Homo sapiens: one gene and its partners. The protein of the gene in region 2 purifies or fractionates together with the protein of the main gene of each other region. This does not show direct contact. Each region holds a gene or a part of one and is shown on either strand. Other genes may lie near its edges.

What was found.
Region 1: the proteins of HCRTR2 (region 2) and ATP13A3 purify together in Homo sapiens (affinity purification with mass spectrometry; one large-scale study listed by BioGRID and IntAct). This does not show direct contact.
Region 3: the proteins of HCRTR2 (region 2) and TSPAN15 purify together in Homo sapiens (affinity purification with mass spectrometry; one large-scale study listed by BioGRID and IntAct). This does not show direct contact.
Region 4: the proteins of HCRTR2 (region 2) and ACTR3C purify together in Homo sapiens (affinity purification with mass spectrometry; one large-scale study listed by BioGRID and IntAct). This does not show direct contact.
Region 5: the proteins of HCRTR2 (region 2) and NLRX1 purify together in Homo sapiens (affinity purification with mass spectrometry; one large-scale study listed by BioGRID and IntAct). This does not show direct contact.
Region 6: the proteins of HCRTR2 (region 2) and SLC30A5 purify together in Homo sapiens (affinity purification with mass spectrometry; one large-scale study listed by BioGRID and IntAct). This does not show direct contact.
Region 7: the proteins of HCRTR2 (region 2) and SLC25A46 purify together in Homo sapiens (affinity purification with mass spectrometry; one large-scale study listed by BioGRID and IntAct). This does not show direct contact.

The regions. Positions count from the first base shown.
Region 1 is NC_000003.12:194,431,503-194,435,002, forward strand, and holds part of ATP13A3 (polyamine-transporting ATPase 13A3), read right to left. Parts: intron 2,395-3,500; coding exon 2,270-2,394; intron 391-2,269; coding exon 215-390; intron 1-214. UniProt on the Homo sapiens protein: ATP-driven pump involved in endocytosis-dependent polyamine transport. Uses ATP as an energy source to transfer polyamine precursor putrescine from the endosomal compartment to the cytosol.
Region 2 is NC_000006.12:55,177,515-55,181,014, reverse strand, and holds part of HCRTR2 (orexin receptor type 2), read right to left. Parts: intron 1-3,500. UniProt on the Homo sapiens protein: Nonselective, high-affinity receptor for both orexin-A and orexin-B neuropeptides. Triggers an increase in cytoplasmic Ca(2+) levels in response to orexin-A binding.
Region 3 is NC_000010.11:69,482,465-69,485,964, reverse strand, and holds part of TSPAN15 (tetraspanin-15), read right to left. Parts: intron 2,275-3,500; coding exon 2,089-2,274; intron 825-2,088; coding exon 750-824; intron 1-749. UniProt on the Homo sapiens protein: Part of TspanC8 subgroup, composed of 6 members that interact with the transmembrane metalloprotease ADAM10.
Region 4 is NC_000007.14:150,289,046-150,292,545, forward strand, and holds part of ACTR3C (actin-related protein 3C isoform a precursor), read right to left. Parts: intron 549-3,500; coding exon 405-548; intron 1-404. UniProt on the Homo sapiens protein: May play a role in the suppression of metastatic potential in lung adenoma carcinoma cells.
Region 5 is NC_000011.10:119,178,725-119,181,620, reverse strand, and holds part of NLRX1 (NLR family member X1 isoform 1 precursor), read right to left. Parts: intron 1,929-2,896; coding exon 1,333-1,928; intron 451-1,332; coding exon 364-450; intron 1-363.
Region 6 is NC_000005.10:69,100,514-69,104,013, reverse strand, and holds part of SLC30A5 (proton-coupled zinc antiporter SLC30A5), read right to left. Parts: intron 3,208-3,500; coding exon 3,085-3,207; intron 953-3,084; coding exon 886-952; intron 53-885; coding exon of another isoform or gene 1-52. UniProt on the Homo sapiens protein: Together with SLC30A6 forms a functional proton-coupled zinc ion antiporter mediating zinc entry into the lumen of organelles along the secretory pathway.
Region 7 is NC_000005.10:110,745,507-110,749,006, reverse strand, and holds part of SLC25A46 (mitochondrial outer membrane protein SLC25A46), read right to left. Parts: intron 2,739-3,500; coding exon 2,661-2,738; intron 845-2,660; coding exon 744-844; intron 1-743. UniProt on the Homo sapiens protein: Transmembrane protein of the mitochondrial outer membrane that controls mitochondrial organization.

The DNA of each region.
Region 1 (3,500 bases), on a different chromosome or scaffold from region 2:
TATGCTTCTCATCTTAGCTAAATATCAAAATTTGAACATTGAGATTCCTGGGTCTGTCCCAGTCCTAATGAAACATAATCTCTGAAAAAATAGCCCTGACTTCTGTTTTCATTTAGTTTTTGCTTTACTGTGTTTTAATGCACCACTTTTTTTATTTTTTCAGACTAAATTTAAATCAACAAACTTTAAAACGGACAGTCGATCTTGACCTTACCTCTGGGTCAATTGCTGATGGATGACTGCACTGCGTGAGGGAGTCTGCATAATGCCAATTTATTTTGGCAACTTTCCCATCCTTTGGAGGTAATGCTTCAGCAATAATCACTTTATCCTGAGGTAGAATCATTCCACAATCTCTGGCCACAGAGACAGCAGTCAACATACTGTCACCTAATTTTCAAAATATTTTAAATGTATTGAAATTAAAATGGAAACGTGAACGTATCAAACATGTACTTGCTGAGAATCTACTACAGTCTCCATGACTGGGCTGGCAGAGTAACGATAATGTATGGTTCTTCCACTTACAGTTTAAAAATAACAAAATTGGAGCATACTTATCAAAAGAAGCCTCAAATAACGCAAGCACGTTATATGCTAAAGAAAACATCTCACCCACAATTTTTAAAGCCAAATATAATTCTCAATCTTTTCCAGTCATGCACTATTTGTATCTACACAATACCTGGCACGGTGCTACACACAGATCAGGTGGCTCAATAAATACTTACCGAAATAACTTTACAAAGTGACTAGTGGTCTGTGCAAGAACACCAGCACCATATCATAGAAAATGATGAATTACAAAAGCAAGATCATACAAAACAAAAAGGTAAGACAGGTAATAAGAACAGGTGTAAACGAGAAACAAGAGAGACAACTTCTCAGTCATGAGAAGAAAGAAGAGCAGCAAGAACAGGATCTTATTAAGGAGAAGCAGACAAAGGTTTGTGGATCCCACTGCTACCAAAACAGAAGAGCGAGATATTTCTTTCCTCAATTTCCACACACTATTTCCAAGAATATCTTCCTATGACCTTTGGTACACAAAGCCATATTCTGGCAAGGGGAAAATAAATAAATAAATAAAAGAGGAGGACGAGGAACAGGTGAAAAGTGTCTTGACAAAGAAGACGCAAGAACTAAGAATGGCTGGAATGCTAACAGACTTAGTTACCTTGAGTTATACGGTAAAATTATGTTATTAGATAGATCTCAAGAGTCTAAAACACAAAAATGTATACAGACTTTCTCCATATTAGTCTTACTGAACACGTAAGTGCCATTAAGTATCTTAAATCTGATTATCTGCTAAGAAAAAAAAACAAAAAACAGAGCTACCACAATTTCACACAGCTAATGAGTAAGAGTTATCTAATATTATCAACAGTATAGTAACATCAGGAGAATCCCTTAGATGTACTAGAAAAAAAAAAGTAGGCTATTTCACTAGAATTCAAGCTAGGGTAATAAACAATATCTTACATATAAACATTTCATGCTATCGAATATCTATTAATCATTTTCTATGTAGCTGACAGTTCTAAAAGTTGCAAAGGACCCCAACATGAGTAAAATATACTCCTAACCCTCAAGAATCTTATATTCTAGTACAGAAAACAAATCTACAAATAACACAAGGTACAATAAGTGCTATAAGAAATATACGAATAAAGAGAGAAAACAAAAAGGAGTCAAGTTTAAATTTTTACAGTGTACTTTTACTATTCTTTTTTTTTTTTTTTTTTTTTTGAGACGGAGTCTCGCTCTGTCGCCCAGGCCGGACTGCGGACTGCAGTGGCGCAATCTCGGCTCACTGCAAGCTCCGCTTCCCGGGTTCACGCCATTCTCCTGCCTCAGCCTCCCGAGTAGCTGGGACTACAGGCACCCGCCACCGCTCCCGGCTAATTTTTTGTATTTTTAGTAGAGACGGGGTTTCACCTTGTTAGCCAGGATGGTCTCAATCTCCTGACCTCATGATCCACCCGCCTCGGCCTCCCAAAGTGCTGGGATTACAGGCGTGAGCCACCGCGCCCGGCCGTACTTTTACTATTCTACTACACTTTCTATAAATAGGATTCGCTAGACCTCAAAAAGAATATGACAAAGTTATCTTGCGCTTGGGAAAATATTCAGAGCTAAAAGAGAACTTAGGTTGAAACCACTATAGACTATATAATATGATTTTATAACTGATTATCCCTCAATATAATATAACTTCAGCTCTGTCACACTCCATTTGCTTCTGTGTTCTTTTATAAAGTCTAACCTGTGACCATGACGGTGCGAATGTTGGCTTTATGCAAATCTTCAAGTACTGCAGGGGTTTCTTGCTTTAATTTGTTCTGCATTATAATTAATCCCATAAAATCCATGTTGTTCTCAATTGCATCTCTGCAGAAAAAGAAGTTTTAACACATAATGGTTTAGTCAATTGAGTAAGCAACTTATGTACACAAACTTGAAATATCTAAACAATTAAAAATGTCTATAAGTTATAATGCAGTTTAAAATATCTATAAATGAAAACATTTTATATGCTGAATAAACCACGTGTGTGTTCAAGAGTTCAGTATCTCAATATAATAATCATTTGGAAATGTATGTCACTGTACACTAAACAATTCTAATACTAAGGAATATTCATTTTGTGTAGTATCCAAAAATAAGCATAAATCTATTCTTTACTGCCCTCTACAACATATCCTAATTTAAATGTTAAGTGAAAAAGAAAAAACTGTGCCACAAGCACATTCAATACAGTTTTCGTGGATTCATTATCAAGTCTCAGATCAATTCTATAAAACAATTACTGATCCTGAAAATGTGACACAAGAACCATTAGCAATCCAACAATGAGATCTACTTGGGACCCAGAGATGGGTCTTTGAAAATATTACTAATATAGTTATCAAGATGCTATTCTTTAAATAACTGAGTATCAAGAATGCAGCAGGCACTATGCTAGTCACTGGGAGGTTAAAGACAAAAAGGGATGATCTCTGCTCTCAAGACACTTGGGTGGGGAAACAGACATGCAACCAAAGAGATGCACACAAAAATAGTACGTGCTTTAGCACTATAAAAGAGATGAAGTCTGTTCAGTGATAGTTACGTTCTTAAGAAATCTCAGGTCAGGCATTGTAGCTCATGCCTGTAATCCCACCACTTTGGGAGGCTGAAATAGGAGGATTGCTTGAACCTAGGAGTTTGAGGCCAGCCTGGGCAGCATAGTGAGACCCCGTCTCTACAAAAAATGAAAAAACAATTAGCTGGGCATGATGACATGTGCCTGCAGTCCCACTACTTGGAAGGCTTGAGGAGTGAGGATCATTTAAGGCCCAGGTGGTCAAGTCTGCAGTGAGAAGTGTTTGTTCCACTGCACTCTAGCCTAAGCAACAAAGAGAGATCCTATCTCAAAAGAAACAAACAAAAAAAGAAAACAAACAAAAAACACCTCAACCTACCTGAATTATATCATAGAAATTTTTTTCTCAATG
Region 2 (3,500 bases):
CCAAGATGGTGAAACCCATCTCTACTAAAAATACAAAAAAAAAAAAAAATAGCTGGGCATGGTGGCATGTGCCTGTAATCCCAGCTACTGGGGAGGCTGAGGCAGGAAAATAGCTTGAAGCCAGGAGGTGGAGGCAGCAGTGAGACGAGATTGTGCCACTGCACCCCAGTCTGGGTGACAGAGCAAGACTCCATCTCAAAAAAAAAAAATTAAAAAAAGTTCATCTATTTAATAAAATCAATAGCAACATGATTTGTTTAAATAAATACTATTTATTTGGCAATGCATGACAAAAAGAAAAATAAACAAATATCTGTAGATTATGTGAAGTGTTAAGTGTTTAGGCTCTCAGGCTCAAATTGTGTCTAAAAATAGCACTTTCAATAACAAAATAATCCTTGGCCACAATTATCTAACATTTTTTTTCCAGTGAGTCAACCCCCTGAACAGGTAAAAGCATTTTTGGCAGCACCTATTTTACCTTGAAATTTTCTCTTGTAAAGTAACCCTAGCCCGACCTTGATTGGCTTATCAAATGAGCTCATCCTCAGAGCTGAAGAACTGTAGTCTATCAGAAAAACAGCATGGCAACATGCCCAAACAACTCTGTAAATTGTCTAGAGGGCACATCTAAGTATCTCTTCCTTCCTCTTTTTGCCTATGCATCTCCAGTCAGGGTTAGAAGCTAAGGAAAGAGGCAGGATGAAGTAATGGAATAAGCATGGACCATGGAATTTGTTAAATCCATATTTGAAACCTAGTGCTGCTATTTACTGCCTGACTAAACTTTTGAGTAAGTTAGCATTGCTCTTTGAATTCATTTTTCTTATTTGTAAAACCTATTAATCTTCTCATTATAAGTTTGTTGTAAGGCATCAATAGAGTATATGTAAGTGGAGCCTGACATATAGTACCTGGCATATAGTACCCAATAAATATTCAACAAATTTCCTTTGCAGGGAAAAAAGGAACTGAAGACAAATACCGTCAGCTTCACCAATCACATGTCATTGACTGAAACATACTTAATAAAGCCAGCATTCCTTAGGGTGGAGAAGATGTCAGAATGCTATAAGAAGAAACATGGAAGGATCTTCTTTCACTAGTTAAATAACATCAGCAGTGGATGTTTCGGAGCGGAGTGAGAATATGGAGACTTTGAGATGCTAACATAGCTGCAGTACATGAAAATTTTCAAATATAATCTAAAATACAAAATAAGGAAAATTAATATAAATCATATGATACAATTTAGTATGTAGGCACTACTACAATCAAGACAGTTTTCTAAAAACTGGAGCATTGTGTTTATGTTTGAGTTTTAGATTTGGTCTCTTGAAAACTGGTATTTTTTAATTATCCCATTTCCCAAATATATTTTTTCAAATACAGAAATAACTCATTGCATTTAAATTATCAGTTGCACATGTTATTCTCATTATTGTCTGTCCATGATAAATGTTGCTGTTATCTATGAAATAGCCATCTTAAAAGTTATCATTGGGATTTTAAGTCAAAGATATAATTTATTTTACTAAGTAAGACTAAACAGTTATGATTTTAGCAAAAATGTAGAGGCATCAGATTAATTCTTATTCAGATTAGCATGTTTGCATTTTAAAACTAAAATGCACAATAGGTTTAAAGCCTAATAGTTAATATTACCTTTTACAGTCACTATTCATGATTCTATTGAGTCTTGGCCGAGATGAGTGATGTATTATTTCTATATCTAAAAAGGGTTTAGAAATAACCCCTTTTTGCTTCCTGTGTAGGTAAGGATGGGTTTACAAACACCCATGAAACTAAAATGGGCATTCGGAGAAGCAGAAAATAAATGTCTCTAGGCTTAGGAGTAACATGAACTTGCAATTCTACCACTTACATATCTGACACAAGACTAACTCTGTAGGAAGCAAACTTATTACAAATATTTCCCCATTCCACACACCTAACTTGGGTAAACTGTTATTAGGTAAATTACTTAATGGATAATTTATTTTAACTATGAATACTTCACAATGTATTTTAACAATGTATGAGTTAAATCAACATATTACCAATGTGTGTGTTATTTAAAACACTAGTAGTGATAGACCTGCCTATCAACAACCTATTAACAACTCAAAAACTCTAAATGAATGGGACCCAGCACAGGCAAATTTAAGTTGAGAGAGAAAGCAAACTATTCCAATAGTTAGGAATGGCTTTCATTTAAAGGCAAGAAGGCAATGTTAAGCAATCAGTATGAAGGAGATGGGTGGGTGGAGCTAGTGTGGAAAAGGAGAGTAATGTGTGCCAACACCATTTTATTCACACCTTTTAGGAAAATATGCAATTAAGGAAAAGGCTGGGGCAGAGGCCATAAAGAGCTACAGAGATACAGACTGGCCCATGAAGGCAGAAGCTGGCTATACACCACATCACAAAAAGTTCAGTCATGAAAATTAAGGGATAAAAATTGACATTAATTAGTGTCTATGTGTCAAGAAAAATATGTATATGCCTGTGTCCCTTTATATGTCTTTATAGAGGGTATACGTACATTATATCCTGATACTATTTCTATAATGCAGTCATTATCGATCTTTAATTTGTAATTATAAAAAAATTGACTTGGATAGTTCAATAACTTGCTAATGGCACACAAGAAGCAAGAAGCATAGCTAGACTGATGTTTTCCTATTTTCCATATGGAGACAACAACAGATATGACAGAAGCATACCAGATGAAACATATGATATCTTTGAATGCAGATATGAGAAGCAGAAAATTGATCATTTTCCCTAGGTACTTAATGTTTAAACTGACTAGAACACATTTCTCCCTACAATTGTCATTCAAGGAATCAGGAGTAAAAATTAACATCAGTCACATTTCTTTACATTTCCCCAGAGGCTCCCCTGATATACACACTAATTTAAAAAAATGATAATGCTCACAATATACCAATTGAATAAGTTGATACATCTACTTAGCTGTAGTAGAAGACATAGTTAGGAATAGGTTATAGGTGGCATTATTCTGAAGATACTGAAAAGATACTCCTTCCAAAAAGAACCTTACCCTATGCTCCTTCCTTAGAACTTAAAATTTCACATTAAACATGCTTACAGCTTTTCATTGAATGTAAATACTCATAACATTCTATTTAAAACTTTACTCCCCCAGGAAACTGCTTTCCATCTTTGGGAGGAGTATATGAGAGTGGAGAGGTGGCATAGTGATAAAGAGGGACTATGGGGAGAAGAAAAAGAGATGAGGACAATCAAGACTTTGTTATGCTACCCACAGCATATCCTATTACATCACTTCATGAAAGGACATTGTGGAGAAGATGACTTCTAACTGATGGCATTATATTTGTAAGCCCAAAAAGGTTGAGATTTTCCAAGCAGTTATATGAAAGTACAAATGGTGACTGGACCTGAAGGCTCAGTGATTACATCTGCTGCCTACACTGTGGTATTTTACCTTCATACTTAATATTGCATCTTTA
Region 3 (3,500 bases), on a different chromosome or scaffold from region 2:
CAAACCCTGCCAGGGCCAGGATGCCAGGCATCACCCTGTCAACCTGCCCCTCTCCTCACTCCTCTAGCCGGCATAACAGCCTCTGATGGTACTGCCTCCAAAATATACATCAAATCGCCTTTTTGGCCCAGGCCCACTGCCTCCACCTTGGTACAAGCAATCTTACCCCATTCCCAGGATGACCCCCCACAGCCTCCCAGTTGGGCCCCTGTGTACACCCTCAACTCTTCACTGTCCATTCCCCAACTCAGCAGCCATGGTACAATATAAACTGGGTCACATCGCTTCCCACATAAGACTCTCCAAAGGCTCCTGTCACCTCTAGAAAAAACTCCAAGCTCCCAACTCATGGCCTACAAGGACCTCTGTGATCTGCCTGGCCAGCCCTTTCGACTTCACCTTCCACCCCTCTCCACCCCACCTACCCTCAGCCACGTGGCCTCCACGCTGTTTTGCTCACATGCTAAGCTCATTTCTGCTCAGCTTCCCTCTGCTGGGACCTCACTCAGCTGGCTCCTTTTACCATTTCAGCACGGGCCTCCCATCTCCTCCCCAGGCGCTCTCATGTCAGCTTGGTTCATTTTCTTAGTCGCTGCTTTACTTGTTCAGTGCCTGTCATTCTCTTTCAGCAGAATGAAAGCTCCATGGGGGTTATCTGCCCTGCTCACTGCCATACCCCCAGTTAGCCCAAGGCACCCACAGTGGGTGCTCCATACACACATGGCCGATACACAAATCCACAGGCCCACCTGGTTCCGGAAGGTCAAGGCCACCACGCCACCAATGAGCTCCATGATGAGGCAGATCCCAAGGATGTACATGAACTGGAAAACAGAATTCAGAGACTCACCTGGAGAGGAGCAGTGGGCGTGTGTGGGGTACAGGGGAGGCACCATCTGCTCCAAGAGCAAGCACAAAGAGAAGCATCCCTCGGGGAGCTCCTACCAGCTCCTAGGCCTCTGCCCCCTCCTCCTGTGAGAACGTGGACGTGGACAGGCAGGCCCCAGGAAAACCTGTCTCTGGAGCCGGAGGGCAGGAAGAGTGACTCAGCTGTCCCAGCCAAATGGTTACCTCCATTTGTCTTGGGGGTCTATGTGGAAGAGCACGCCCTTCCCCCACCACCATAAGGAGAGCTGGGCCTCGTTGCCACTGAGCCAGAGGGGCTAGGCCTGGCTTAATGGGCAGGCTGGGGCAGTATGTCCAGCTCCCCACAGAGAGCCCTCAGATGTGACTTCCCAGATCCCCCACAGTGGGTGAGGGGGATGGCTGAAGCTTAGAGGATATGCACCCCCACCTCTGCCCTTTACTAGAGAGCAGGCATTACCCAAACTGATTTCAGCAAATTCCAGCCTCAAGTAGCACCCAAACCCGGTTTACAGTGGATCGTAGGGGCTTCCCATATGAGGGGAGACAATGAGGTCAAGAGACACACAAGTGCAGAGTGAATGGATCTGCCTACTCACTACCCCCAGCTTTAGGGAGTCATCCCTCACCCCACAATAATGGGATACAGGTAGGATTGACTCCCCATGCCCCATCCCAGAATGGGCACATGGCCCAAGCCAGGCCCACCAGAGTCCTGGGACTTTGGCCAGAGCTGGTAGGAAAGATTTCCTGAGATCTAGAACCATAAGGACTTTGTTGGCCTGACGCCGGCAGTGACCACTGCAAAGGGAGCAGCCCCGGCTGGCAGGGGCTGGGGAGATTGCCCAACCCTGCCCAGTGGCGCCATCTAAACCCCTGGACCCAGTGTGGGTTTGCTGGTTGCATGAGCTAATGACTCACTACCATCTCCTTTTTTTGTCTTTGCTTGCTCTCATTTGAGTGTGGTTTTTCCTACTCGCAACTGAGCATCCAGATGAACACAGAGTTTAAGTAAGAACAGTATTCAAATCAGCTTTTACATGCAGGAGGGGAGGTGGCCTGGGCATTCTTGGGCCAGTGTGGTCAGATGGGCTGATCTAAGGAGCTCTCTAAAGGAGGTGGTTTGAGGCAGGGACAAAAGAAACTGAGCTGCCCAAGGGCACAGGGGCAGGCGCCCCAGCTCTCCTGGGGAGTCCCGGCTGAGGGGTGGTGTGGTCCACTCACTGCTTGGAGAAGGTACAGGTTGTCACGGAGGGACGCCAGCACACCAATGAAGGAGACCATGAACATGACGACGCCCAGGAGGATGAGGATGATGGCTGGAGCCAGGAAGGCACTTTCAAGGGTTTTATATTTCTGCCGCTCAACCTCTGCATAGATGCCCACAGACAGGACCAGGGCCCCAATCAGCTGCAGCAAGAAAACAGAGGGTGAGAGAGAGACTGAGGTCACTTGATTTTCTACAGCAAAGAGTCATCTGGGGCTGTGGTACCTGCTGTGGGGGAGGCTTGCCCCAGGTTACAGCACAGAAAGGGCCCTGTTAGCGGCTGAACTGTGTTTCCCCAAATTTTCTCTATTGAAATCCTAACCCCCAGTACCTCGAAATGTGACTATATTTGGAGACAGGGCCCTTAAAGAACTAATTAAAGTTAAAATGAGGTCACTAAGGTGGCCCTAATCCAATATGACTGGTGTCCTTATAAGGGGAAGAGATTATGACACAGACACTCACAGAGGGAAGACTGTGTGAACACGCAGGGAGAAGGCAGCGTCTACAAGCCAGAGACAAGCCTCGGAAGAAATCAACCCTGCAGGCCGGGCGCGGTGGCTCACACCTGTAATCCCAGCACTTTGGGAGGCCGAGGCGGGCAGATCACGAGGCCAGGAGATCGAGACCATCATGGCTAACACTGTGAAACCCTGTCTCTACTAAAAATACAAAAAAGCAGCCGGGCATAGTGGCGGGCACCTGTAGTCCCAGCTATTCGGGAGGCTGAGGCAGGAGAATGGCGTGAACCCAGGAGGTGGAGCTTGCAGTGAGCCGAGATTGTGCCACTGCACTCCAGCCTGGGCAACAGAGCGAGACTCGGTCTCAAAAAACAAAAAACAACAACAACAACAACAAAAAAAAAAAATCAACCCTGCCACCTTGATCTTGGACTTCTAACCTCCAGAACTGTGAGAAAATAAATGTCTATTGTTTAAGCCATTCAGTCTGGTACTTGATGTTATGGCAGCCCTAGCAGACTACTACAGACCCAATCTGGAGATGCCACTTTAGAGGAGAGTATAGATGGGTTAGGGGAAATGCCACTGGCTGGAGGGTCAGAGAACATGGGTTCGAGCCCCAGCTCTGCTACTTGCTAACCCTGGGCCTTGGACAGGCATTTGACCATGTGAGTCTGTGTTCTCATCTGAAAGACAGACTTGAAGACATTCATTTCTGCACTGCTCACACCACGGCTTTCGCGAGTGAATGAATGTGGAAACACTACAAACCTGGAAGTGCGAGGCCGCCACAACGCGTATTAAACAGGCAGGTCACCCCGTGCTCAGGGCAACAGACATTTCACACAGTACCATAACACGGAATTTACTTTCAGGATGACCACAGAGAAGGCCAAAGGTTGGAGCAG
Region 4 (3,500 bases), on a different chromosome or scaffold from region 2:
GTGTGAATTTTGTGCAATAGCTCTGGATCCTAGGTTGGCAGTGTTCTGCTGCTGTGGTCGCCTCCTGATTCTACAGCGAAGCATGGAGGCAGTATGGAAGGAGCGCTCTGGTAGATGAGGCTCCAGCAGTGAGGCTCCAGCTGAACAATGCTGCCTCTGCACGCTGGTACGCTGTACCAGCTACCAAGCTGTTCTCAGTGACAGCTGGAACCTCAGAGCATCTAGTTTGGAAGAGGTTAAGCTTTACATCTTCAGCCCACTTAAGGGGTAAAACAAATCAAGCCCCACACTCATGGGAAGGGGAGAGGATGGAAAGGAGGGGCAGGGATGATGGCACCAAGGGGAAGTGTCCAGAACACCATCTCTCTCACCCCCAAACCAGCCGGTTTCCCATCTGTTTTTACCTTAATGGCTTTTGCGGTCTCCAGTGACTGCTCAGGAGGGATTCCCACCTCCCTCTCCCTTAGCAGCTGTTGAATGAAATACGTAATATCTCTACCTGCAATCGGGATGTGTTTGATGCAGCTTCCAATTACATAACCTTCTGCCTAGGGAAGAAGAGGAGGCAGAACAGCTGTGTTAGTGATTTCGTGGTGGAGAGCAGCCTGGACTCACGAGGTTTCCTGCCTCAGCCTCCCTGTCTGCCCCTCACGGCACTGACAAGCATTGACAGAATCCCCACCCTCTGCAAGCTCAGTACAGAAGGTCTTTCAAAAGGACTGCATATGCAATTCCATTAATATTCAAAATTCCAGATTATTCCAATAACCTGACACTCTCCAAAAGCAACCAAAATGATTTCATTAGGAATATGAAAAGAAAAACCACATAAGATAGTTCATTTCCAAAAAGAAATGCTGTCTGTAAGAACACTAAACCCAATAGGTTCTTTCCCTAACAAAAAGGAAAAAGTTTTATTTATAAATTGTTAAGCCAACTATAAATCTACTTACGTTTAAAAGTCAGCAATTTGGTTAATACACAGGGCTTAGATTCTAACAACCTGGACTCAAATCCCAGCTCCACATTTGCAAGTTTCACATGCTTCAGCCTCAGCGCGTTTGTCCATCGTATGAGGCAAACAATACCCTGCTGGGGCCAATGATACAGTTCAGATGAAACTGCGTGTGTCGAGCACACAGCACTGGTTTTGGGGGCTGGGAGCCTCTCATTCCACTGCCTCCCTAAGCCAGTGAAGGCATGTCTGTGAGGGGCCAGGAAAGGAGGGTGACCACGACCTGGGCCGATCAATGGCAGGGCCAGTGTCAAGTGTCCACATGCCCACAGCAATGATGGGCCCAAAGCTCCCTCATCAGCCTTCCTGTGGGCACAGACCTGCCACAGGAGCCACAGGCTTGGACACACATCCAGCTTGTTCTACAGGGGATGAGCAGGATGCTGACCGTCAGAGTGGACAACGCCCACCGCTGGATCATCCGGTAAAGACACTCAGGTTTCACGTTACAGCACATCACAGCTTCTGTGCCACAGTCCCCAAATGAGACAGAAGGGAACAGAAGTGAAACGCTGACTTCATTTTACAGATGTATTCATTCTAATAGCTGCATCTAGTCACCAGTAAAGTTGCAAGAACAACTTACTGAATTCCTCCTATGGTTTCTTTCTGATATACCTAACTTCCAGAAGCAAAAAAAGATTTAGCCTTTCTGCAGAGTCCAAGTATTTGTAAAGTATTTTAAGATGGAGATAAAAGTATAAATTACTAAAACTCAACTTAAACCCATAAAAATAATATTAGCTTTCTAACACATAAACTATTCACAATTACTATATTCTATGCATTACACATAATATTTTCTAAAATACTGTTAAATAAATATCAGCTCATGACAGTGGTAAAAATATTAAAACAAGATACATGTCCAACAACAGAAAAATAAATTATGTACTTCTTAAATGTATTTTCACAGAATATTTAACCACAAGAGAAAAAAACTAGGGTTAAATTAATACGCAAAATATAACCTTAGGATTGTATTATATGTACAATCCCAAACCAGACATGAGACATTCCAATTGTGTTTAAAGTGTGTGTGTGTGTGCATGCATGCGTGCACACACGTGTCTTAGAAAAAGAGCTTAGGCCGGGCATAGTGGCTCACGCCTGTAATCCCAGCACCTTGGGAGGCCAAGACAGGCGGATCACCTGAAGTCGGCAGTTCGAGACCAGCCTGACCAATATGGAGAAACCCCATCTCTACTAAAAATACAAATTAGTCAGGCATGGTGGCGCATGCCTGTAATCCCAGCTACTCAGGAGGCTGAGGCAGGAGAATCGCTTGAACCTGGGAGGCAGAGGTTGCAGTGTGCCGAGATCGTGCCATTGCACTCCAGCCTGGACAACAAGAGTGAAACTCCATCTCCAAAAAAAAAGAAAAAGAGCTTAAAGACTATACGGCTAAAAGTATAATACAGGTCTTTGGGCGGCTTTAAAGGTAATTTTATTTCTTCAAATTTGTCTATTTTATCCAAATTTTCAATGACTAATGTAATTTTTATAGCTGGAGGAAAAACTGAACTAAGATACGATTAAAAATCTTTTCAAACAACTTTCTTAGTGGGCCTGGACACACTGTGAAATGTATTTTCTTTCCTTTTCCTAAATCAGACATAAGAAATAGGCAAAGAACCAAAGGGGGTGCAGGCCAGGGGCCTACGGGGGCCTCATCTTGGATCTCAGCAGCGCAGTTCTCTGAGGAAATGGCAGCCTGAGTTCTCGGTGAGTGCTCTGCACCCAGGGCACTAACTCTTCTCAAGATCCACCGAAAGGAGTGCTGAGACTGGCTTGAAGGGGGCTCAAGTCTAGAGCACACTTCACAGGGCAGGGCAGCCACCTCTCCTCCCCACAGGAAGGACACATAGCCAGGAGTACAAGGTATGGGGGCGGGAGGCTGGCTTTTTTCTCCCTGACTGTAGGCCCATCGACCATTAAGCCTTTCCTCTGCAGTGATACCTAACCTTCAAGGAATTAAAGGCATTGGTATTAGTACATCACCCCATCACCTTCTCAAAATGAAATGGTGACCATTTTTTCAATTAAATTAAATGATTTTTGAAAATCCTAATTTGCATTTTAAAAGAGCTGTGTGTATGTAAATATATACACAAACACACCCCCCCATATACATATGCAGAAACATTATCTGTAACATAACAGAAGTAACTAGCAATGGTGGTTCCTGAGGAGGAGACCTCAAAGGAGAAAGACCAGGATGAGTCTGACTTCCCTCTGAATACCCTCTTCAGACACTTCTGATACATTTTCCAAAAAAAATGAATTTAAGATAATTCCTTTAAATAGTCCATTGGACCAAAAGAAAAATTCAGAGATCTCTTGAAACCCAAATTAGGAATCACTTCTCTGAAACCAAAAAGTGGTATTGCAGAGCCTTCTGCAAGCCAAAATGTACAATCTCCCCTTCTTGGCTTTTAAATTTTTTTTTTTTTTTTTTGAGACGGAGTTTCGCTCTTGTTGCCCA
Region 5 (2,896 bases), on a different chromosome or scaffold from region 2:
GGTGTCTACTGAGTGCCCAGCATTAGGGTCCTCCTCGGGAGGCTGCAAGAAAAATCCTGGGAGGGGATCAGTGGCACTGTTACCAGGCAACCGGCCTAGGTATTATTCCACCCTCTCTCCCCACCTCCCCCAGGCTGATTTTAGCCACGTGAGAGGTTTCTTAGCACCCATTACAGGTGGCATGTTTCCCTGCTGCCCTGCTGCTTGCAGTGGACCTGGGGGAAGTGGAGGGGACAGGTCAGGGCCTAGACTCTCCTCCATTTACTATCCCTTGGGTGGGTCTGTGCCAAGTATGTCAGGAAGCAGGGAGCTCACCCTTGACCTTAGCTGGCCACCAGGATGCCCCACTCCCAGGTCACTCACCGCAGTGTGGTAATTTGGCACTGGTCATGCAGCAACAGGTCTCGGAGGTCCTTGCAGGCCTCAGGGCCCAGGCTGTTGAGTTGCAAGCTGGAGCAGAAGGTGGCCAGAGGGGAGGTGAGAGACCAGGGAGGGAATTCAGCAGGCAGTCTGTCCATCTACCATGCCTTTTTTTCATCAGCCTGCCTCTGGGAATCTATACCTGCTTCCCCTTTTTTGAGAGACAGGGTCTCACTCTGTTGCCCAGGTTGGAGCACAATGGCATGATCACAACTCACTGCAGCCTCAGACTCCTGGGCTCAAGCAATCCTCCCACCTCAGCCTCCCGAGTAGCTGGGATGATAGCTACATGCCACCACACCTGACTAATTTTTTAATTTTTTGTAGAGACAGGGTCTTGCTATGTTGCCCAGGATGGTCTCAGACTATTAGGCTCAAGTGATGCTTCTGCCTTGGCCTCCCAAAGCAGTGGGATTACAGGCAGGAGCCACCATGCCTGGCTCCTCCCTTCTGTTGCTCCTGTCACCTCCACCCAAACTAGACTTTTTTTTTTTTTTTTGAGACGGAGTTTTGCTGTTGTTGCCCAGGCTGGAGTGCGATGGCATGATCTCAGCTCACCGCAACCTCCGCCTCCCAGGTTCAAGCAATTCTCCTGCCTCAGCCTCCCAAGTAGCTGGGATTACAGGCATGCACCACCATGCCTGGCTAATTTTGTATTTTTAGTAGAGACAGGGTTTCTCCATGTTGAGGCTGGTCTCGAACTCCTGACCTCAGGTGATACGCCCGCCTTGGGCTCCCAAAGTGCTGGGATTACAGGTGTGAGCCACTGCTCCCGGCCCCTAAACTAGACTTCTTCATCCCACCTTCTGGTCACTCATCGGTACCTCTGGTTTCCCTGGCACTTTCTTTTCCCACTTCTTCACCTCCAACCCTCTTCCCTCTTCATGCCTGTGCATGAGGATAGGTCCTCACCCCAGCTTCCGGGCACGCAGGAAGACAGGCAGGAGTGTGCGCAGCCCAGCAGGATCTAGCTGGCAGGAGGCCAAGTTCACCTCATCCAGGGCATGCCTTCCGCTGCCCAGCACAGCTGCCACCACTGTGCACTTGACTGGTGTCATGCGCACACCTGCCAGGTTGAGCTGACGCAGGGAGCTGAGCACCTCAGCGGAGAAGCGCTGGTTCTGGAACTCATAGTGGAAGAAGAGGTGGTCAAGGAGCTCTGATGGGGGCAGCACCTGCCGGCCCAGCTTGCCCAGCTTCTTCTTGATGGCCTGGGCATTCTCCAGGGCATCCAGGTTCTTGATGGGGCAGCCAAGCTGAGCTAGCACAGCTCGGTTGTGGGCAGAGAGAAGCCCCCCCATGAACATGGGGAAGAGCTCGAAGACTTCATCCTCAGGGGGCTCATCTGGGTGGCGCCGGGGGCCCTCCACGCCCAGGATACTGGCGCCCATCTGGTCCAGAACATCATCGTTGTAGTAGTCCTCCTCTCGAAACATCTCCAGCACCATGGCCTGAGCCACCGCCTCCCGGCTTTTACCCACCATGCGCCCAAACACTCGTGGAACCACCTGAAAAAGAAGCAGGGGAGAGTCACTGTGGCCTTCCATGTGCCTGTTCAGCCTTCAAGGTTCAGCTTAAGGTACACTCCCATGACTGCTCCAGCCCTGTGATCTCCCCTTGAACTTAGCATAATTTGTCTGATCATGCTACTCCCCTGCTGCGACACCTTCCATGGCTCCCTACTGCCTATGTGGCAAACTCCAAACATTTAGCCTGGAATATGAAACGTTTCTTAAAACTAGAGATGGGGTCTTGCTGTGTCACCTAAGCTGGTCTTGAACTTCTGGGCTCCCTAGCTTAGGCCCCCCAAAGTGCTAGGATTATAGGCATAAGCCACTGCACCTGGCCCAAAACTTTTCATAATTTGGCCCTAATTTGACCTTTCCAGGGTCATCTCTCAACACCTGTCTCATGTGCTGCAGACATTAGGAACTTCTTTCTCTTTCCCAAACACCCTGATACATTTTCAAACCCAGGAGGTGGTGAGAAGGAATTAGCATGTATTACACACTTAGTTTGGGACCGGGCTAGGTATCACAAATACATCACCATCTTCAACATGCAGTTCCTACTGCTTTAAGGGCCTGTGTGATCTGGGCCCTGCCGACTACGATGCCTTCATCACAAGCCTCTTGGCCCCACTCGCTATGCTCCTGCCCTTTCGGCTTTTTTCATCTTAACAGTGCCAAGGTTTTTCCTCCTTCAAAGCCTCCATAGGCCAGGTGCAGTGGCTCATGCCCGTAATCCCAGCACTTAGGGAGGCCGAGGTGGGAGGATCACTTGAGCCCAGGAGTTCTAGACCAGCCTGGGCAATGTAGCAAGATGCCATCTCTATTAAAAAAATTTTCTTAATTAAAAATAAATTAGCCAGGCATGGTGGCATGTGCCTGTAGTCCCTTGAGCACTGGAGGTCAGGGATGCAGTGAGCTGAGATCACACCACTGAACTCCAGCCTGGGCAACAGAGCAAGACCCTG
Region 6 (3,500 bases), on a different chromosome or scaffold from region 2:
ACTTTTTGTCTTTAAATTCTTTTCTACCAGGAATTTTTAGTGATCCAATTATCTGAAAGGAGAGAAAAAAGTTAAAATGGGGTTTAGACTATTAATCATATTTTAAAAAATGTTCTTGGTCTCTGAAACAGAAGTACTTAAATTCGTCTTTCTAATAAAAAAATTATGACGCAGGTTTGTAAGTCATGGCATAAAGCAAACATGTACTATGGTATAACTGCTGCCCAAAGAAGTGACGATGTGAGATGATTATGCAAAATGTAGGACATTTCTAGTTTGAATCACAGCTGCCTAAAGAGAACAGTGACAATGATCATGAGGGTGTCACATTGTCACAATGATGATGAGGCATCATTCTAAGAACTTCATAAGTATTAATTCATTTTTCCTCACAGTTCTGTTAGGAAGTTACTGTTATCTCCATTTTACAGTGAGCAAATTAAGGTAGAGAGAAATCAAGTAACTTGCCCAAAGTAAGGGTCAGTAAGGAGGACAGACAGAACATGACTTTGTCTGACTCCAGAAATCACACTCTTAACCCCTATGCTTTGTCAGCTTTCCAGTGACATTTGTACTAGGCTCTTGGGCATGCTTTCATGTCCAATTTGTAAATCTTTCAGAATAAGAAGTGTGTACTGAAGAAAACAATTACATGAATGCTTTATAATTTTTTTTACCCTCTTGTTTTTTTTAAAAACATTCCATGATCTTAGTACTTTATGATTTAAAGTCTCCATTCTGAAAAGACAAGAGCAAGTTAACTCTAAAATTGTTCTGTGGCATACTTAAATCATTCATTAAGTACCCATTATAAAAAATAAGCATTGCCTCCTGGCCCACTAAACGAGAAGCTGCTAGGAATAAAAGATTCTGCAAAAATCTTACCTGGTGTTTGGTAATAGTTTTCCCAGAAGAAAATGGCTTTTGAAACAAAACCATAAAAAATGCAGTCCTGTAAATATTGAAACATTAATATATTAATATTAATCCATATTAAACACAAGATACAGTTTTAAGTAAAGACACTTATTTTAAACAAATATGCCAGAACTTGAAGTGTTATCCTCTGAATAAATCATACTGGAGAATTAATTATACTTATTTTAGTAAAACTCCTATTGCAATATTTTGATAACTTTTTTTTTTTTTTTTTTGAGATGGAGTCTTGCTCTGTCACCAGGCTGGAGTGCAGTGGCACGATCTTGGCTCACTGCAACCTCTGCCTCCCGGGTTCAAGCAATTCTCCTGCCTCAGCCTCCTGAGTAGCAGGGATTACAGGTGTGCGCCACCACGCCCAGCCAATTTTTCGTATTTTTAGTAGAGATGGTGTTTCAACACGTTGGCCAGGCTGGTCTCGAACTCCTGACTTCAGGTGATCCGCCTGCCTCGGCCTCCCAAACTGCTGGGAAAACAGGCATGAGCTATCACACCTGGCCGAGAACTCTTATTTTCTAACTGTCTTCAGAACCAGCTAACAAGCCACAAAAATAAAGGAGTCACAATTTTTTTTATATCTTAAAATATCAAAGAAGAGAATTCCTATTTTCTCTAAAATTCAGTAATAAATCTTGAAATAGTATAATGAAAATGAAGAAATTACTAATTATATATCCCTACCTTTCACATTGCCAAAATAGTTATATAAAAATGCACACAACTTGGCCAGGCACAGTGGCTCAAGCTTGTAATCCCAGCACTTTGGGTGGCCGAGGTGGGCGGATCACCTGAGGTCAGGAGTTGGAGACCAGCCTGGCCAACATGGCAAAACCCCGTGTCTACTAAAAAAAATACAAAAATTAGCTGGCCATGGTGGGACACACCTGTAATCCTAGCTACTCAGGAGGCTGAGACAGAATTGCTTGAACCCTGGAGGCAGAGGCTGCAGTGAGTTGAGATTGAGCCACTGCACTCCAGCCTGCGCAACCTAGCCAGACTGTCTCAAAAAAAAAAAAAAAAAAAAAAAGCACGTCACTGGTGCTTAATATTTCCTAGTCAATAATCTCTTTCCCAACTTACCAAAATTATACTTCGAAGAGTGTTGTTTTTGTTTTTTTTTTTAAATGGAGTCTCGCTCTGTTGCCCAGGCTGGAGTGCAGTGGCATGATCTCAGCTCACTGCAACCGCTGCCTCCCAGGTTCAAGCAATCCTCCTGCCTCAGCACCCCTTGTAGCTGGGATTACAGGCACATGCCACCACGCTTGGCTAATTTTTGTATCTTTAGTAGAGACAGGCTTTCGACATGTTGGCCAGGCTGGTCTCCAACTCCTGACCTCAGGCGATCCACCTGCCTCCGCCTCCCAAAGTGCTGGGATTACAGGCATGAGCCACCGTGCCCAGCTGACTCCCAAGAGTCTTTAACAGGTTTTTATTAACACAGAGGGTGGTCACTATCAATCTCAAGGTCCAAGAAATCTTTATTTAGAATTTCTTATATGTAGGCCAGGCGTGGTGGCTCATGCCTGTAATCCCAGCACTTTGGGAGGCTGAGGCGGGCAGATCACAAGGTCAAGAGATTGAGACCATCCTGGCCAACATGGTGAAACCCTGTCTCTATTAAAAATACAAAAATTAGCTGGGCATGGTGGTGAGCGCCTGTAGTCCCAGCTACTCGGGAGGCTGAGGCAGGAGAATCGCTTGAACATAGGAGGCAGTGATCTTGCAGTGAGCCAAGATCACGCCACTGCACTCCAGCCTGGTGACAGAGTGAGACTGTGTCTCAAAAAAGAAAAAAAAAAAGCATTTCGTATAAGTAGAATAAATTAATGTTCACACTACATGAGGACTCTGTACTAAGAAAGGATTATGCAGTGAATAATAATAATAATAAATAGCCCAAAAACTAAATTTGCAAAAATCTCATCAAAGTTTGTGTTTAGGCAAGTGATTAGAGCACAACAATCCGTTTTCTTTTCAGTCTCTTTGTACCTCTAATCTTAAGTATACTCCCAGTTAAAAAAGTTTATCAAATACTTGTCAGGAGGAACAAACAAAATATTGTATGTAAAGTTTCTTAAAGATACTCTGTTAAAACAGGATTTTCAAAGAAATAAAAAATATCAAGAAAAAACCCCCCCCCACACTCACCCAAGTTTTAATATAAAAATGAACTGAACAATGTGAACAGCTTTTAGGAGATCATATGATTCGAAAAGTCCCACAGCCTTCAAAAATTTAGTGAAACATAGTAACACAATATATTTTGTTAATCTGAAAAATAAAAGCAGAAACAATTTTTAGTATCACTGAAATTACAAGCAGCTCATCAATCTGGTTTTTTAAACAAGAGGTCATTACAGAAACCACAGAAATATACATAAACACAAAATGAAACAAAACAGAGTCCCCAAACAACTCACCATCCACGTGATAACTACTGTTGACTTTTTTTTTTTTTTTTTTTTAACTCATAGAGACGGGGTCTCAATGTGTTGCCCAGGCTGGTCTCGAACTCCTTTGGTCAAGCGATCCTCCAGCCTTGGTCTCCCAAAGTGCTAGGATTA
Region 7 (3,500 bases), on a different chromosome or scaffold from region 2:
TAGATCTCCATAAATCTGTCTATACAACTCCATTTATTTTATACTGCCATTTGAATATATCTTGATCAGAACATCTATATATTAAAAAAAGAAACACATTCCAAACCCATAGAGAATAAACTTAAAAAGGCACAATCGTATTTTAATGTAGCACCTCAGCTTCTTTTCCTGATATTCAATTTCATACATACCCAATATTCCAAACATAAGACACTTCTTTTATTACCTAGACTGTCCAACCCCGTGACATTGGACATGTTACCTCTTCTTGCTTACATGTGTCTCCTTCATTAAATGAATACTTAAAGAGCGGGAATTGCTCACATACCCACATTTGTTCCTCAGCTGGCAGTTGCTGGCACATAGCAGTAGAAGCTGAAAGATACATCTCAATAGATACTAAGCCAAGACACATTTTCTTTATCACATACTAATTTAATAATATATAATTAATTTTATTCTTTGTTTTTTCTTTTAGTTACTTCAGACAAGTTTTCAGATTCAAGGTATTTTTTATTTATTATTAAAACAATATAATAGGGGAGGGATGGGGACAAGGGTTGAAAGCTACCTATTGGGTATGATGTTTACACAATTGAGAATTGTTGGATGAGAGGATCATTAGAAGTCCAAACTTTAGCATCACACAATATACCCATGTAACAAGCCTGCACATGTACCGCCTGCATCTAAAAACACATCACCACATGAAACTAATACTGAAGAAATGCTAAAAATGGTACCTTGGCAAAGGTGTAAATTCACTAATTATGCCTTCTGCTCCAAGTGTGACTCCCTGGACAATAAATGTACTTCCCATTCCTTTCCACAGGGCTCTAGGTCCCTAAATTGAACAAAATTCATGTTATTTCTGTTAATACCTACATCTGAAACACAAAAGATCTTAATAAAACTTGATATTGTGTAGACATTTTCCAATAAAACATTATTCTAATAGAAATATTAGTAGAGAACTACAATTAATTTTATATCATTTTAAAGTTATACTTAGGCCAAGAAGAACATTCCTATTAATTAAAACCCCTAATGATTAACTAATTTATTAAATATCCCTAATATCTATATATTCAACTCCCTACTAGTCCTGTCCTGTGGATGACACAAGGTAACTTGAAACTTACATATCCACAACTTAACCCAATCATACTCACTCATACCACACCAATTCTTTCCTTCTCTGCTGTATTTCCTATTTCCCTAGATAGCAGCTTCATCATCCTAGTGTCCAAACAATATATCTAGAAAACATTTTTATCTCACTCTTCCTATCTAATCAGTCCCCAGGTTCTACAAATTCTACTCCCTTAGTATCTTACAAATCCATGCTCTTCTCCATACTTAACACTATTACTTTATATCAATTTGACTACAAGTTTCACTGTCTCTGGTTTTGCCCCTTTGCATGATACCATCAGTAATACTCCTATTATTTATCTATATTATCTATATTATTAATAGATATACATGATAGAATTAAAAAGAAGCAATAGGGTATCAGCTGAAAAGTCTGTCTCCTTTTCATCCCAGTCCTCAGCAGCAGTTTTAAAATTTATCGGGATAATCCATGCATATACAAGTATATCTGTGTGTGTATGTTATAGAAATATTTTTGTTTTGCTTATTTTTAACAGGTAGTATTATCTTGAAACATAAAAAATATCCTGGAGATCATTCCACATTAGTATACACAGAGCTACCCTCTTATTTTTAAAGGTTACAAGGTGTTTCACCATAATATACCATAATTATTTCACTGGTACCCTAGTGATGGACATTTAATCATTTCCAGTCTATTATATGCAATGTCATAGGACATCCTTGTATATATATTTTTGCATATATATGTGCACATCTATGTGGGATAAGTTCCTGGAAGTGAAAGAACATGTACATTTTAAATTTTAATAGATATTGCCAAACAATCCAAAGGTCTTCAAGATATTTTGGTCATGGCTAAAACACCTTCAACAGTACTCTTGTAGCTTTTAAGATCTAGTAGTGTGCAGTTCTTAGAAGGTGCTTTAGAATCTGGATCCTGCTTACTTCTCTGGCTACTTTTTCATCTTTCTCTTACTCTTCAACCCCCACTTCAAGCTCCCATTGTACTCCATTAAATCCATTCCCAAACATTATGATCTCTCTTTGTCTTCTGCCTTCACACGTCTACTTTAAAAACCTTTTCTCTATCCTCATCATGAAGAGTCAGACTTCTCAACAAGAAGCACACAATTCGGGCCTTTCTTTTCCCAAAGTTTTTCCCAGCCATACACTGTGCCCAAGCCCAGTTTTGATAAGGTACTTCTCTTTTGTATTCTGACAGCATTCTGTACTTCTAATATTGCCTTTATCTTACTGCAGCACAATCTTCAAAGATTTTGTCTCCATGAATAAATATGAGCCTCTTGATAGCAGAGACATCATCTTAGCACAGCTCTTTGTGGTTTTGCTAAATTAAATTGTACTTTTGCTAAATTACATTTTGAAAGATTCAAAAACATATCGTTGTGCTACTTTAGTTTTACTACAACAGTTAAGATGTTTTATTGACCAAACTGAAAGTAATTATTCTTGCTTTAATGATTACTAAACCCAAATGACACTTATATAAACCTTTAATAGAATCCAGACAAAATTCTCACCTGAGTTTTGTTGAAACTGTACATAATATTGATGACTGTAAATGGAGTGAGATGGTAATGCTGAGCATGGTAATTAACCTGTAAAAAAGATATTTCATTATTTTTTTCTGTTAATGTTTTGTCAAGAAATAACAGAGCCATGAAAGAAATATGGTGGAATTGCAGTATAAACAAAAGTTAATTCCAAAGTCAACATAAATTACACATAAGCAAAATTACTCTTAAAAGTGCTTTAAATAACCTATTAAAAGTACAGTATGTATGGTTATATAAATACAATCTGAAGACCAATGCATAATACACACAGTACTGTAGACTATATAATAAAGAGGGTCTTATTTGATATTTGGTTTGCCTTAAACAACTGAATTACATCTCCCAACTCATGTTCATTTTAGGCAAGCATTTTTCAAACTGTACTTGGCAACTGACTGGTATATGAAATCAACTGGGGGAGTGTCAAAACAATATTTATTATGTGAAACAATAAAATATTAGAATGTATTACATTCTAATGGTATTATTTCATAAAACATTTAAAAATAATATATTTGTTACTTATATGTAATGTATCCATTGGATCTCCATGTTAATATTACTACAATGTAAAATATATATCTGAAATACACTGTTCTGTGGCACATACAGTCAATGCTACTTTAATGGTATTTCTGTATACATACTTTTCAGTGCTAAGCATGAACAGATTAATTTATAATGATTTATACTGTTTTGAACTCTAACAGCTAACAAATACAGGAAGCATTACTTTACAGAGAAAGTGGGTTATAACAGGACGGGCGCAGTGGCTCACACCTGTAATCCCACCACTTTGGGAGG